2 separate regions of the Homo sapiens genome follow, and region 1 is linked to region 2. Evidence: fine-mapped QTL for protein levels in blood plasma. A gene starts in region 2. The other region holds a variant in brackets. All regions are shown on one strand. Distances are between the middles of the regions. Region 1 overlaps EHD3 (EH domain containing 3). Region 2 holds the start of EHD3 (EH domain containing 3).

What was found. A credible set is the group of variants that fine-mapping cannot tell apart. PIP is the posterior inclusion probability: the model's chance that the variant is causal. The UK Biobank Pharma Proteomics Project read protein levels with antibody pairs (Olink). The fine-mapping took linkage between variants from a reference panel, not from the people measured, so its PIPs are less certain.
Region 1: its variant is the best candidate, but not a certain one, in a credible set for the plasma level of the EHD3 protein (UK Biobank, PIP 0.53).

What each region holds. Positions count from the first base shown.
Region 1 is chr2:31,253,795-31,262,123 of GRCh38, reverse strand. EHD3 (EH domain containing 3) reads right to left here. Exons shown (of 6, transcript NM_014600.3): 4 at 1,202-1,614; 5 at 411-575. LOC124905983 (a long non-coding RNA gene) reads left to right here. Exons shown (of 4, transcript XR_007086270.1): 2 at 4,277-4,468. Among named protein-coding and RNA genes, the nearest start is that of EHD3, 24 kb to the right of the region's middle. RefSeq lists enhancers at 4,955-5,004, 5,090-5,917. The variant C/T (reference allele first, on the strand shown) is at 4,023.
Region 2 is chr2:31,226,233-31,234,499 of GRCh38, reverse strand. EHD3 (EH domain containing 3) reads right to left here and starts at 348. Exons shown (of 6, transcript NM_014600.3): 1 at 1-348. It also overlaps a transcript of CAPN14 not described here and the pseudogene RNA5SP90.

The sequences.
Region 1 (8,329 bases), 28 kb before region 2:
CCCAGATTGCTCACAAGGGGGACCTCAGATGTAAACTCGAGCACTTTAAGAGCCTGGAGAACCTTGGTCAGGTGACCCATCCCACTGCACCAGAGATGGTGGGGACGTCAAGCCTGTGGTGGCTGTGACTAGAGAAGGTCATTAACTGGAGGTGTCAGCCCCCCAGCATCATCTAACACACCTGCACCACTGGGGCGGTGGGCTCCGTGTTTCTCCCCAGGCCCAGACATGGCCCCTGTTGGGCCAGTGATGGCCCAGCTAGGAGTGTAGATCCAGGGCCACCTCCTTGCCTGCAGATTCTGGGCGGGGTTCTCCCTGGGGGGCTCCAAGAGTGGCCTCCTCCATACTCAGGCTGCTCAGCCAGCTCTCGGGACACTGTCCCTTGTCTTAGAGACCCCAGCCCTCGCTACCTGCATCCTCTTCAGATTGGGGAAGTCCCCAGGTGAGATCTGGTGCTCCCGCTCGATCCGGCCATAGATCTCGGCCAGGTTGTTGACCAGCTCCTTCTTCTTGTTGTCCTTCCCGAACACCGAGGGCATCTCCTTCTTCAGAGAGCTGATGATGTAGGCGTGGACCTGACAAACAGGGCCAGAGAGAAGCCTTCACATCAAGACCCTGGACGGTCCCTTCCTTCTAGGATGGCTCTTGCATCATTCCTTCCCCTACATCCCTCCCGCCTCCTCCTGCTCCTACTTTTGAAATAATTTCTACCTCTACCCTCATGGCTCCATGTTGCTTGCAGGGCTGGGCTGTTTTTCTATGTTATGTGGGCAAGGTGAGGTTGTGGGGAGCTATGGTCAAGGCAGGGTGAGGTGGTCATGTTGCTGCTGCTGAAGGCAATACCAGCAGCTGACAGTTGCTGAGCATCTCTGAAGGTGCCAGACACTGTGATGAGGGCTTTGAGACTCTTTATTTCACTTTATCCTCCAACAACCCCTTCATTTTACAGATGCAAACAGAGGCACAGAGAGACTAAAGGCCTTGCCAAGGCTGGGAATCCCACAGACAGTAAACAATGGAGTCAGTTCCAATCTGGCCATCTGACCTGAGAGCTTGTAACCATGGCTCCCGCACTGTCCTGCCCCTTGGTGTCACACACATGATGCACTGGCTGTTGGAGGCAGCAACCCTCAGCTCGTGCAGCTGACCCCAAACTCTGGGCCCCTGCCCAAGCTGCCCACCTCCCAGGGGGCTGCCTCACCTTGGCCAGCCTGGCCCTTTTGATGAGGTCGTTGAGCTTGCGCAGGGCAGCATTTCGGGGCAGACTCTGGATGTCCCTGAATAGGTCCTGTTCCTCAGCCTCAAAGAGCTTCCGGTTGTCAGGGATGAGGAGGGGGTGGGACCAGAAGGAGCCGATGTAGACCCGGATCACCTCTGGGGTGTTCACGATCTTCCCCAAGGACCACATGAGGGCCCCGTACACCCGCATCAGCTGCTGCGTCTCGATCTGGTCAGCTTTGTTCAGCACCACTCGCATCTTGTCCTCGTGGTTCTTGAGGGCTTTGATGACTTCTGAGAACTCATCAGAGATGTCCAGTTTGTGGGCATCGAAGAGCAGAATGATGCGGTCAACCCGCTCGGCAAACCACTCAAGGACAGCTGCAAAGTCATACCCTGCCGGCAGAGGGACAATCAGGGGCTGGGGCCTTTGGGGTATAGGGTAGGGGTTTGGAGAAGCAGTCGGGTGTGGTAGAAATAACACAGTCTTGGGAGTCAGATCTAAGTTTAAATCCTGGCTCCTCCACATTTTAACTGTTTGGACTCCAGCAAATTACTCAATGTCTCATAGAATTTTTTTCGTCTAAAAATACTGTTAAATACTAAAATAATATGAATACCTAGTTAATAGAACTATGAAGATTAAATACTCTTAGAATCCGGCACTTAGTAGGTGCTCAGTAAATGCTAGTTACTTTTTTTTTTGAGACGGAGTCTTGCTCTCTCACCCAGGCTGGAGTGTAGTGGCACTGCCTCTGCTCACTGCAACCTCTGCCTCCTGGGGTCAAGTGATTTTCCTGCCTCAGCCTCCCGAGTAGCTGGGATTACAGGCATGCGCCACCATGCCCGTCTAATTTTTGTGTTTTTAGTAGAGACAGGTTTAACCATGTTAGCCAGGCTGAGTCTTGAACTCCTGACCTCAGGTGATGCGCCTGCCTTGGCCTCCCAAAGTGCTGGGATTATAGGTGTGAGCCACCGCCCCCAGCCAGCCACTGCGCCTGGCCTAGTAACTCTTATTAACGTCATTATTTCCATACCAGCTCCCCTATCCGTGCTTACTGTATTTAGCAGCCCGCTGGAAAAGAAAGTCTGGACACCTAATCTGACACAAAGACCCAGAAATTCTTTCTAAGGTCTGAAAACAATGAAACACTAAAAAGTAGATACTGATGATGGTTCAGACCATGCCTGTCACTGGTCTGGAAGAAATCTGCAATTCTTGTTATAAAAACATCTTGTTCTCACTCAGGCTCTTTCCTTTGTAATCAGCTGCAGCACAAAATTCCCAACTCTTGAAACCACAAGGGGTTTCTTCCTTAGGATGTGACTGGAACTCTGGCCACCCGCATCTTGGTTATCTAGCACTAAGCTGCTTTAGGTCAGACTGGTTACAGGAGCCCCAGAGAAGTTGTTCTGCTCAATCCCAAGTAGCTGTGGATCCAGTAGGAGCTGAAGTAGGAGGGTGGACCAATAGTCTATACATTCACTGACACCCAGAGCCCCAGTAGGTCTTACCTCTGTGTCTCAGGCTCCTCTTACATAAAATAGGAAGACAAGAGATAAGGAAGTGGGGCTCAGAGAAGTCAAGTGATTTGTCGAAGGGCACACAGCCCATGAGCAGCAGCAGTCGCATGAAGATGGAGGTGTTAGGCTTTCCCATTCTGAGTCTGAGCAGGGTTCTCAGCCTCTCCTCCTGCCACTCCCCCGTGGCATACCTCTGGCACCAAGGTAGGAGCCCTTTCTTGGGTACTAAAGTGACCAACCATCCTGGCTCCCCATAGCACAAGGGTTCCAAGGTGACACACACTGGGGACCCAAAGCTCATTGCCACCATCGAATGGGAAACCAAATCATTAGGAAAAAGCCTGCCCTGCCTCACAGAGGGAGGCTAGAGACCAGGCAAGATCATCAGGCAACTGCCTTGTGAGTGAGTCAGACTTAAGAAGCTCTGACTGTCTTTAACAGGGGTCCTGACTTAGCCTCCATCAGAATCCCCCCAGGGCTTCTTAAAACCCAGATGGTTGGACTCTATCCCCAAAGTTTCTGATTCAGTAGGTCTGGCGCAGAGCATTTCTAACAAGCTCCCAGGAGATTCTGATGCTGTTGGTCCAAGGGCCACACTTTGAATACCACTGGCCCATAAAAATAACAATAGCATTCAAAAGGTGTTCAGCACTGACCTAAGTACTTTATAATCATTCATTCCTTTAATCCTCACGATGACTCTGTGTAGGGTCATTAGACACTAATATCAGCCCCACTTCTCTGAGGAGTAACCAGAGATACAAACAGATAAAGGAACTTGTCTAAGGTCACCCAGCTGGTAAGCAATGGGCTGGGACTCAAGTCCAGGAAGGTAGCCCTGGAGTCAGTGCTATGAACCACTGCACCGAGTTGGCTTTCACTTTCAAAGGCTGTCATTTCAGACTAAGTAGCAGGCATCGATGGGGTGGGGGATGAGGATGAATGGAGCCAACGGAGCTAGGTTTAAAAAGCCTTTCCCCCACCCTGTGGCATCTAGTGAACACCCAGTGGGGTACATATTTAGGACGTGTGGAGGCACTGCCACAGGGGGTAGGGGGATGGGATCAGACGGTCGGGAAAACTTGCTGCCCTAAAGCTTCCTGGAGGACCCCTGTAATGTTTCCCTGGTGGCTGTAAGAGAATTCTAACAAACAAAGGAAGGTCAAACCCTCCTTTGGTTACCCGGATGCCAGTACTACTCCATTTTCAGCTCCTCTGTCTTTGGTAAATGAAGTGCTTCCAAGCATTCCCATTGCCATGTGATTTTCTCCAAGATCTGT[C/T]AGCTGCTCAATGAATATACAGCTCAACTAACACCTGAGCCTTCTCCCCCTGCTCCTGTGGCGTAGACCTATGAGGCTACGAGGAGCTTAGCCATCAATGGTCCAACTTCCTGATTTACAGATAGGGAAACTGAGGCTCAGGAAGGGGCAGAGCTGGCCCAGTATCTCCAGGTGCCATCCTGAGGATAGTTCCTGATGGGTGCGTCATCGAGGGCCTGGTGTGAACTAGATTTTGCCTTCTCTTTTGAACACAGGTGTCCTGTCTCGGCTCAGAGACAAGGCCCAGGAAAGTGCTTCAGAGGCTGCTCTGCCCAGTGGGCAGGGGCATCATCAACCCTCCCTCGGAGATGTTCACGCAAACTCTAGGAGTTAAGTGACTCAGCCAATACCACCCATGAGACACGACCCCTAGCCTCCAACTCGAAGTTCAGTGCTTGCTGCAGACGGTAAGATGTTCATGTCATTATCTCATGTCACCCTCACGACACGCTCTGAGGCAGGCAGCGCGAGGAGTATCGTTCTCACTTCCAGGGGAGGAAACTGAGGTTCAGAGAGGAGAGAGTCAAACAGTTGGCAAGTCGTGAGGCCAGATGACCCAGCTGTCAGCCATCCAGCCGTTCTGCACCTGGCCGCTCCCTGCCTCCCTCCCTCCCTCCCTGGCACGCAGGCACAGCCAGCTCCTCACTGGAGCCCGGGAAGCCTAAGCATTCCCACTTCAGGTGAAGCCTGCAGCCCGCACTACTCCCCTCCTTCCTACATCCCTCTGTCCATCCTTCCCTTCCCAGGGATGGCTCCAGCCTATTTTTATCTTCCCTTCAGCACAGCGCATGGCAAGGCTGCTGTCACCTCCCAAAGGCAGTCCCTCAGAGCTGTGGGTAGGGAGGGGCCAGAGGGCTAAGAAAATCCCCAACCCCCACCTCTGCAAACAGCTCACAGCAGGAGGGCAGTAGGGACCCTCCACAACTCCCTGCCAGGCCTCTGGCCTTCTGCTGCTCCTTATTCCCCAATCTGGATTTTAGCTGTGCCAGTGCAGGCCACAGGAGGGGCTGCTGGGAGGACCAAGACTGGGCTGCAGCTCCCTCTCACCTGTCCAGCAAATCTCAGCCCCAATATATTGGCTCAATGGCTCAGAACAGGCTAAGGCAGCCAGGGCAGCCAGTGTTGAGTCCTATGCTGACAAGGTAATGGAGGTTTATAGAGGGTGAGAGAAAGGCCCAAGGCCATGCAATGCTGGGGGTCAGAGCCAAGACCTGAACTCCAAACTCAACTCTTGCACTGTAGCCACGCCTCCACCAGGCTGGGGAAAACAAAGACACCAGAGAAGCTGCAGAGAAGGGAAGAGGCTCTGTCCCTGCAACTTGCTGCAATCCCTGATGACACCAGCGATGTAAGAGAAGGCTGTGTCTGCAAAGGCTGAGGGGCAGCAATATGTCCATGCTGCCAGAACAGGATAGACCCCTGCCTATCCCTGTCCCTGCCCTCAGTGGTCTTGTAGCATCATGCACGCTCCTGTTCTGCTCTTCAGCTCACTGAAATCATCCTCGGTGCACTGGGAGCTGGACAGGGCAGGGGCAGCACCTCACCCTTCTGGGCTTCCCCTGCACCCAGCACGGTGTGTGGCACACAGCAGGTGCACTATCAGTATTTGCTGAACGGAAGTGAAACGTGGAAAACGTGGAAACCTGTTCCACGTTTGGCATCTGGGAGACAGTAAATGAGTAATCTCTGGGCCTCAGTTTTATGGTTGAGGAATCAGTGACTCAGTCGTAGGGTTATTGTGAGGATCTAAACAAATCAGAGGATGCAGGTGAAACTGCTGAGCTGTGACCTTGGCTGTTCTCATTGCCCTGCTGTTTTTTGTAAAGCACTCCTTTTAAGCCCTAGTTTCTATGAGATGGGATGTGCTCTGTAGGAGTCACCAGAGGAGCACTGGCCTGGGTGAGTCCACCTCTCGTTTCCGCTTAGCCACTAACTTACTGTGTGTCCTTGGGCAAGAATCTCCCCTCTCTAGTCCTCTGTCTCTTTGCCTGTCAAATCAGGGGATTGAGCTGGACAACCTCCGAGCTTCCTTTCTCGGTTCACAATTCTCTGCATCTGAGACCAGAGGTGTGAGGGTGGGGAGTACAACAGGATGGATGGAGATTAGCTACAAGGGACCCTTTGCAGGCACAGCAAGAGAGAGAGGCTGCAGGCTGCTGTCTTACAGGCCTCGGGGATGCCTGTGTGAAGTCTGCCTCTGCCTGAGGACAGGCCAAGGGCTTCTGGGAACTCTTTCCGTGATTTTATAAGCAGAGGCCTCCTATTTGCTCTGGAAAGCTGCTATCCAATTACAGACTCAGTAATGCCAGAAGCTTCCAGCCAGGTGTGGCTGTGAAGACCATGACCATCAAGCAATGACTCCATGGGTTGCTCTGAAGCTCGACTTCCCTGCTCCTGGCTAACCCCGAGGCTGTGTCATCTGTAGGGTGGATATTTAGTTGTTCACTTGGCCTGGACTTAGGTGCAGATCTAGGAATGGCGGTATCTCAAAGGTATGGACTGGACCCAGTAAGAAAAAGGGTATGGTATAGGATTAGCTTTCTCATTTATTTGGCAAATCTGAACCTCAATTTTCTCAGCTGCAAAATAGGGATAACAAATGACTGAATGAGGGGTCTGTGGTAGAGCTGAATGAGGACTCTGTGGTAGAGCTGTGGCAACAAGATCTGACAGCACAGACTGCCTCAGCAGCTGCGGTGAGTGCTATGGCCAGTGACAGGCCCCCTTCCCCTCTCTGGTCCCAGCGATGGCTCTGAGACCCACAACGGTAGCTCTTGGGCACCTGCGGCAGCCCAAGTGTTCATGAAATATGGACTAGTGAGTCGGGGGAGATTCAAGCCCCAAGAGACAGAGCAGAGAAGCTGCCCTTCCTGGACTTCATAGCACAAGTCTGCTGGCTCTAAGAGGTCTAGTCAGCCAGCTCCGGGCCTGGAGACTGGGCAGCCTGCAGGGATCTATGGTCCCCTCCAACCGGAGGCTCCAGATGACTGGAAAGAAAGCACTTTGAAGTAATGCCAGGCAAGAGGAAATCAATCAGACAAACACAGTAAGGAAAGCCACCCCTTCCTCACCCGCCGGCTTCCATCATGGCCTGGCATGCAGTGCCTGGGCCCTCACAGGGCAGCATACTTCTTCGGGTTTCCAGCCACGTGACCTCATTCGCTCTTCATAATTCTCTGTATCCCAGGAGGTAAGTAGGGCATACACATCTTACAGGACAGGGAATCTGGACACAAAGAGATTAAGGGGCTTGCCCAAGCTCACACAGCCAGGTGGTGGCAAACTCAGGCCTGGAACCCAGCTCCTTGACTTGCAGCCCACATTCTCTTTCTATAACAGCTCACAGCCATGTGAGCCTGAAGCTCAGAGGCTGAGCCCTCAAACCAGGCACTTACTTGCGGTGGGTACATACAAAACCCCATCCCTCCCCAAAAAAATCTCCGTCAAGATTTAAAGGCATTTGAGCAAAAGAGGAATAACAAGGCATCAATTTCCAAAATGTGGGAAGAGTTTGGCTGACAACGGGGAAGAAATGCCACATTAGATGCTTCCCAGAAGTAACGGCAAAGAGCGGCCCGAGCAGATGGTTGGCAAGGCCTTTTGAAGGGCGTCAGGACTCGGCTGCTCTGCCCAGGCACAGGAGCGCCCACACAGGCGTGCCTGTACCGGCACGTAGTCTGGGAAGACCCAGAGGCCTTTAAGTGCAGGCTCTGCTCCAATGAGGGTGCCCTGGATGGGCTAGGAATGTGAGGCTGCAAGGATCAGCCCAGACCTGCCAAGGTCTGAGCCCTAAAGACCCCTAGAGGAAACCTGGAGATGAGAGGTTTGCCCTCATTCCTACCCCCTGTGCTCTTCCGGGGCAGGTGATGATAATGTGCTGAGAAGCCGTGGACCAGGAATAGGAAGACCCGAGTTCCCTAGATGTGTGATCCGGGCAAATTTTCAACCTGCTCTGGCCTTACTGAGCTCACCTGTGCAGAAAGGGGCCTGTGGGGAGGAGCTTCAAGCTGTGCAGTCTGTGATGTGAGCACAAAGCCCCGCCCTGCTTTCCTAAGGTGGCGCCTATGGGGATTTCTAGCTGGGAAGCAGCCAGGAAATGTGGTTCCTAAGCTCAGGACACTCAGCCTTCTGGAGCCCTCCCACTCCTGCTGCATCCTCACTTCTTCCCAGTAATGAGCCAGGCTGGGGCACATCCTGCCACTTCCAGGAACCACCTCCCTGTCTTCCTCCCCTGCCCACCCCAATGCATCTGCATCCAGAGACAAGTG
Region 2 (8,267 bases):
TCAGCCGCACCATGGCCCGGGCACGCGGCTAGGAGGGCCGGGAGCGCACTCTCCCTGCTCCTGGGACCAAGCCCAGCCGCTGCTGCATCCAGCAGCCCAGGCCGGAGGGAGGATAAATAATCTGGGCTTGAGGAGGAGGGGTGAAATCTTGGCAATTAAAGTTGAACCTGCAAGGAAACTGCCAGATGCCGGGGTCCCAAGCCGGGGTCCCCGATCGGCCCCCAGCCCTCGCCTGCTCTGCCCTGCGTGCAGCAAGGGATGCTTCGGCTCCGCTCCTGCCGGACCGAGGCGGCTCAGGGGAGACGGCGACGCTGCCCAGCCCGCGGACAGCTCTGCATCCGCAGCAGCATCCTGCAGCCCCAGGCGGTGGTTTAAATGCCAGCTGGGCAGGAAGCCGGCGCGCAGAGGAAGTCCCCTAGTACTGGCAAGGCAGGGCCGGCCCCACGGTTGCGGCGACGGGAAGCCGCGCAGGGCGCCGCCATGTTTGTGGGCAGGCGCTCAGCTCTAGACCTGCGGCCGCGCGGGGAGAGGGATGCTGACCCAGTCCAGTGGGAGAGTGCCGGTGTCTCAGTCTCCGCCTCTGGGGCTTCGATTTGGGAACAGCGCCCTCTCAGGGACGGCTGCGAGGACAGAGTTGACCTATTCATCACACTCCCTGCTTTGAATCGCCTCTCCTTCAGTTGCTGAGGTCAATTCCCTAGGAAAACAGGTACTCTAGTATTGGGGGATTTTTTTTTTTTTTGGCATAGAAAGGGGATCCACTATCAGGTTACACAAAATAACCAAAACTGTCACTACCCAAACTTTTAGCTAGGCTTAGGGTGAAGTCAAAATCGTTCCCATTTACTTATTCATTCATTCCAGCAAAACAAAACAAGCCAAGAAGCAAAATCCCTGCAAGTATTGGGAATTTATTATGGGGCAGTTACAATTTTGGTGACTGTGGATACAGAGATGAGTGCTGAACAGACTCTCCCTTCCAGGAACTCCAGTGAAGGCAGGCTTTAAAGAGGAGGCATGAGCAGAGGGTCATGGGAATACAGGGAGGAGTCACTCCTTTTGTGTGGCTAATTTGAGGAAGGCTTCATGGAAAGCATGACTGTAAGCTGGATCCTAAATGATGAATTGACATCCATTGTTCTAGGAGCGTAAGGAGTATTTGCAAAGGCTTGAGGAACTTGGTGTGTCCAAGGCAGAGTAAACAGTTTGGCATAGCTGGAGTGTAGGGTTTAGGAAGGTGAAAGAGAGTGAGGGAGGCCAAGCATGAAAGGCTTTGCCAGAGATGGGGAACCAATAGCAATGCTATTACTAATCATTGTTACATTAACAAAATGCTCAGCATGTGCAGGGGCCTGGGCTAAGTTCTCAGTGAACATTGCTTTATTTAACCTTCATGGCAGATCATATTATCTCCAGCATCATACTAAGGAGAGTGAGTGGGAACACTGTCCAGGTGTAGGCAAAAGCAGTGCATCGTGTGTAGAGAATTTAAACCCAATAATAAACTTGCTGAAAGTTGATGTGCTTTGTATTGGCACCATTCTAAACAGTGTAGTGATAAAACACTCCTCCCTGCCCAGGCTAATGACTCCCACTACCCTCCCTTCCACAGATGAAGAAGGAGTAGGCTATGGACCAGGCAGGAACTGGAATGCCAAGAGCAGTGTTGGAGGGGCAAAAGAGGTTGGGGGTTGATATGGTTTTGCTTTGTGTCCCCGCATAAATCTCATCTCTAATTGTAATCCCCATAATCCCCATGCGTTTAGGGAGAGAGCTGGTGGGAGGAGATTGGATCATAGGGACAGTTTCATTCATGCTGTTCTCATGATAGTGAGTGAGTTCTCGTGAGAGCTGATGGTTTTATAAGGGGCTCTTCCCACTTGGTTCCTCATACTTCTCTCTCCTGCCGCCTTATGAAGGACGTGTTTGCTTCCCTTTATGCCATGACTGTAAGTTTCCTGAGGCCTCTCTAGGCATGCAGAACTGTGAGTTAATTAAACCTTTTTCCTTTATAAATTACCCAGTCTTAGGTATTTCTTCACAGCAGTGTGAAAACAGACGAATACAGAGGCCAAGAGACCATTTAGGAAACTATTCCAAAACTTAGGAGACAGCTGCAATGGGATTGGAGAAGAGGTCAGACTCAAAAGATTTTTTTCATGGAATAGAATTGTCAGATCTTGGTATGTGATAAAAAAAAGAGGACATAAGGGTGAGGCACAGTCTAGGATGATTTTGAATTTTCTACCATAGGGGATAAGATCATTGGAGAAGCTCTTCCACTAATTAGGGGAGGCAGAGAGAGAGCTGATTTAGCAGACAGAGATAATGTGTTCAATCTAAAACGTGTTGCGTTTGAAGTGCCTGCAGGAGCTTCAAGAGGAGTGTGGTGAAGCTGCAGGGATTTCAGGGGAGGGGGGATTATCAGAGGCCAGTGCTGAATAGAATCTCCTTAGTTACATCTCAGATCTCCCGACTCCCTCCTTGAACCCCAAAACTGATCATCTCTTGTTGAGAATTCACTCAGATTAATATTTCACCCTTGGTGTTTAGCTACTACCAACATACGAACCTAAGGAGTAATATTAAAGATATTTAACAACTCACAAGGCATGAGAATCAAACACCCGGAACAGACACTGGCCTTCCTAGTGGAGCAAGGCTTGCGGCCCCGTGCCACGCCTGGTGTTAATACAGTGGCGTCTGGACCTTGGAGAGATCTGAGCCTGTCCCCGGAGAGAGGTCAGTATGGCCAGCGTGACAGGAAAGAAATCAAGGGGCCCCATTATGGAAGTATTTCAAGAATTTTGTAATCAGTACGGCCATGCCATTGTCTACTGCTGAATGTCTGTTCCGAATATCTAATTTACCAAGTGCGTGTTGACACATCTACTCCCGTCTCAGTCTTGAGTAGTTGAAATCTATCTGTTTAAAAAAGGAACTAATGGAGCATTTCTATAGACTAGCAATAAAAGGTCATGAAAGATAATATTCAAAAAAGATACTGTGTTCAAAAGAACAAAAACTTACGGATAAATCTGACAAAAGATATGCAAGATCTTTATGTGAAAAATAATAAAACTTTATAGAAAGATGTTAAAGAAGTTCTAAGTAAATGGGAGAGACATGCCATGTTCCATTGTGGAAGGATTCCTTGTCACAAACATGTGAATTCTTTACAACATGATTGATAAATTCAATAATTGAGAGATATGATTGAAATCAAAATCTAAATAAGGTTTTCCATGGAAATTGACAAGGTGATTCTAAAATGTATAACTTATAGAGCAATAGTAAAAAAAAGCTTAGATATTCCAGGAGAAGAAAGAAGATAAGAAGAATAAGGAGGAGGAGAGGGAGAGGTGGAAGGGGAAGGAGGGCAGAAAAAGGAGAACAGAGAAGAGAAGAGGACAACAGTAACATAGCAATGGCAACAACTAAGCGAAGAGGACTTGCCCTAGTGGACATTGTTATGGAGTTACAGTGGTTAATATGGTTTTGGCACAGAGACCAACAGAATAACAACACAGTAAATAGCCAGGAAATTTGGAAGCCTGACATATACAGAAGTTGCAATAGAGATTGCATATATATCACCACAAAGTCAGGAAGAGTTCTTTAAACAAGACGTCAGAAGCACAAACTGAAAAATGAAAAAAACTAAGTTTAGCACTAGCAAAATTTAAAACTTTCGTTCAACTAAAAATACAAAAGTGAGTGAAAAGATATTTCCTATACACAAAAACCCATGAAAGCACATCCAGAATATAGAACTAATGGCTGTGCATCGATAACAAAGACAAACATTCCAATAGAAAAAAACTTGGCAAGAGCTACAAAAATGTCTTTTACAAGAGGCTACATGAATGCCCTATAAACGCAAGAAAACATGTTGCATCTCATTAGTAATTAGAGAAATGCCAAACCACACTAACACTCCATACCCACCAAAATGGCAAGAATAAAAAGTTGGATGGTAGGGTTGGTGAGGATGTAGAGCAATGGGAGCTCTCATAAAATGCTGATGGGCGTGCAGGCTGGCACAAATACTTTGGGAAACAGTTTGGCATTGCTTAGTGAAGCTGAAGATGTGCATGTCCTATGACCTATCTCCTTCCATTCTATTTCAAGGCGTGATCTAGAGAAACTCTTGCACATGTGCATAGGGAGATAAGTCTTAAGAATGTTGATGGCAACATTATTTGTAGCAGCAAAAATTTATAAACAACTAAATGTCCTTCACCGAGTAAATGGATAAATGTGCCACATTCATATAAAATATATACCACACTGGGGTCTAGTTGAGGGTGGAGGGTGGGAGGAAGGAGAGGAACAAAAAGCAAGAACTATTGGTTACTAGACTTAACACCTGGGTGATGAAATCATCTGTACAACAGACCTCCATGACACTAGTTTACCTATATAACAAACCTTCACATGTACCCCCGAACCTAAAATGAAAGTTACAAAAAATACATACTCTACAGATGAGAAAAATGAGGGAAGTGGTGCTACCTATGCCAAAATATGGTGTTGAGTGAATAAAGCCAGAAGTAGGCTATTATGCATAGAATCATACAATTTCATTAATGTTTCAGGTCATGCAAAAACCACTATCTGTTGTTCATGGATGCATATGTGTGCATTGAAGTTTTTAAAAAGAGAAGCAAAGGAACATAAAACACTAGTCAGGAATGGGGTGTTCTCTGGGACAAAAAAGGGAAATGGAATTGGGGATGGGTACACAGGGAGCTTCAGCTATATACTATATATACACTGTTTTCTTTCTTTTTCTTTTCCTTTTTTTTTTTTTTTTTTTTGGACATAGGGTCTTGCTCTGTCACCCAGGCTGGAGTGCAGTGGCGCCATCTTGGCCTACTGCAACCTCTACTTCCTGGGTTCAAGAGATTCTCAGCCTGCCTCAGCCTCGCAAGTAGCTGGGACTACAGGCATGAGCCACCACACCTGGCTAATTTTTGTATTTTTAGTAGAGATGGAGTTTCACCATGTTGGCCAGGCTATTATTCCTCAAATTTGATAGTGAATACTTGGCTGTTCATTTCTTATTCCTTTTATCCTTTATTTTAAAAAAAATCTGGTCCTTGGATGCACAAAGTTGGAATTTTTTTCATAACTGTGGTTCAAGACAAACTACACCTGGCTCCTTTATTATATTTTTAAAAAACTTAACACATGTTTTTGTAATGGACCCTTGATGAACCTATCATTCAAACCAAGGACTAGAAAAATTAGCAGCAATTTACATCTACTTATGTGCTCCTCCCCATCCTGTCTCCTGCCCCTTCTCCTTCTTTCTAGAGGGGACCCCTATCCTGAATCTACTGTGTGTTGTCCCCTTGCTTTTTAATTACGGTTATACACAAATGCAAGCCAAAAGAACATATTGTTGAAGTTTAGTGTTTTTGGACTTTTTCTAAAAAGCATATCCTGCTGCATGTAATGCCCCTGGAACTCGACTTTTCTTGCATTCAACATTTGTTTTCAGCCCCATCTGGCTCCACAGGGCCCTCTCCCACCAGGTGTCTCTTCCAAACCCAGCACATGCCTCCTATTTCTGTCACCTGCCAGGTGCATGGGGGTTCCCAGTCAGACAACCTGCAGTAGATGGAGTCCTGGTGTCCCCGTGTCTTTGCTGTGTGAGCTTGGGGAAAGTGGCTTCACTCTCAAGCCTTAGCACCCTGGTCTCTGAAATAAAGATGGCAATAGCATTTTTTCAGGATTAAAGGGACCGTGCATGTAAAGTGCCATTGAAAGTGTTCAGTATGTATTAGTTCTTAATATTATAATGATTATTACTTTTATCCACTACATGGCACTGCCTTATATCCTATTTAAGAAGCTGTTTAATAAACTATTGAATAAGCTTAGTATTTAATAGCTGTAATATTTAATAAGCTATTTAATATGCTGGCACCTAATAAGTTAGTGAGCAACTTCTTTCACTTCATTTGTGTCTTAACTGAGGATGGCTCATTGACTCAAAGGAATATAATTTTTAGTAGTGATATCTGTGGTGTTTGCTCTGGGTTCTTAGGGGTGACACTATGAAACAGAAGACTTTTCCATCTCTTCTGTTTCTCCCACTCAGATACTAACTCAGGCCGAACCCTCCTTAGCTTCCAAGATCAGATGAGATCGGGTGCATTCAGGGTGGTGTGGATACAGACACTTCCCTTTCTCATCCACAACACCAGAGTCTGGCCAGAAGTAAAGGGAGAAGATGGAAACTGTAGCAGCAACCTGGAATACAAGTTTGAGCCCTGGCTAGGGGAGTTAGAAGAATTGGGAAGTGGGACCAAGTGTCCATAATCTTAGGAATCTATGGCCCCTTTCAACCTGGCCCAACTACCATTGCATCCTGGTGACCTGCCTACAACCATGCACGCATGCGTGCCTCCCACAGCTGCTTCCTGCTCCTCACCACGCGGGCTCCTTTGCACACCCTGTCTTCAGCCTCAGTCTTCCCTTCCCCACCCTCTGCCTGGTGGGCACCCACTCATACCTTAAGGCTCAGTGTGGTGGTCCGCCCTCTGAAGAGCTGAGTCAGCAGCTCTCCCATAAGAAGGCTGTGCCCCTCTCCCCACTTCCAAGCTACCCCACGTAAACCTCTGTTACCGCATTCATCACATGTTACTATAATTACATGTTTAAATTGTTTGCCTTCCAACTAGACAGGGCACGTCTTCAGCCTGACGCAGTGCTGTACTCATTCTGTTTACTTCAGTTGGAGGCGAAAGTGCATCAGCTCAGCCAATTCCTACTGATGAGATCAGGCCGAGTTAAAACCTCTTTTTATGACAAGGTCCTCATCAGTGAAACCAGGGTAAGAGAAACACCAAAGGCAGAAAAGTGCCAATGACGCTTCACAATGTTGTTGTGGGGATAAAATGAAACAATGTAGGTCAAGGACCTGATACGTTTTTATAAGTCTATAGTAAGCGCTCAATAAATAGTTCCCTTTCCCCTTGGATGAATGAGTACTGAACGTGCACAAGGAAAGGGAAGTCTAGAATAAAAATACACAGGTGAGGGAACTGTGCTTAGGAAGTTTATAAGCCAAAAAGGAGATGAAGAAAGAGGGTCTGTCTGAGTCTAGTTGATGGGCTGTCCAGGAATAACACTCCCCATTCATACCATCGGTACCACAGCTACTTAATTGCTGGAATGCGGCTGTCTCATACATAGCAGCTCTCCTTGGCAGAAAGTCAGTTTCATCCCTGGGTGCAGCAGGAGCAGAGCTAACCTGAGAAATCCAATATTACACGGAGGAAAGCCCACACCACGAGAGGCAGCGGTGTGTATCTGGTTTTAATAAGATGCCTGCTTCTAAGAACCTCAACTTCCAAAGGCAAGACATTTGCTACCTGCAAGATGTGAGCTATAATTCGAAAATCTCCTAATTATGGTCAGTGTCTGCTTTTGTAGCACAGGTGTTTCCAGAGCGTGGGCATCTAGTCCTCATGGCAATCCTGAAGAGGAAGATAGGGATGTTTCCCAGAGGGAAACTCAGGTGCAGAGAGGTAGGAAACTGCCCACACAGGCATCTTTGATTGAGCTATCTATCATCCTACTCACTTTCCCCTCAGTCCACAAAAAGTGGGAGGCAGCTTACCGAAATCCCTTGAATTCTAAAAAATAAATGAACCCTTGAGGCAGCTGATATGAGGGGAATGGGCAGGTGAATGGTACAGAAATATCAGAGGGAGATGAGCAGGAGGCCCCCAGAGGTGAGCAGCCATCACACTGGGCTCTGAGCTGCTTGATCAGTGCAAAAACAGAAACAAGTTATTAGTTCCAAACCCAAATATATCTGTCTGTCCCTGCCAGCAGGATCTTGATTGCACCATCCCACTCAACAGCCTCGCTTGGGTAAGGGAAACACCAAAAGCAGAAAAATCCATGCTGAAGGACCCCAGGACCAGCACCAGTTCCTGAGCATCTTTCCCGGGCTGTAAGTGTTGTTTACATGTCTGTCTCTTTGCCAGGGGAGATAGAGGAAGCACCTTGAGGAGAAAAGCTCTCTTTTAACCCTGCACAGGGCTGGTGCAGGCACTGAAGTTGACTCATTCCTGATGTGGCTTTTGACAAGCAAACAAAGATTAGAAATGTGAATTACCTGTAGTTGGCCAATTATTATAACCTTATATGTTATAACAGATAAGTCTATGACTACAAAAATGTCTGTGAGCACAGAGAACCTGATAAAGGCAGAACCTATGAGCGTGGGATATTTAAAAATACACAGG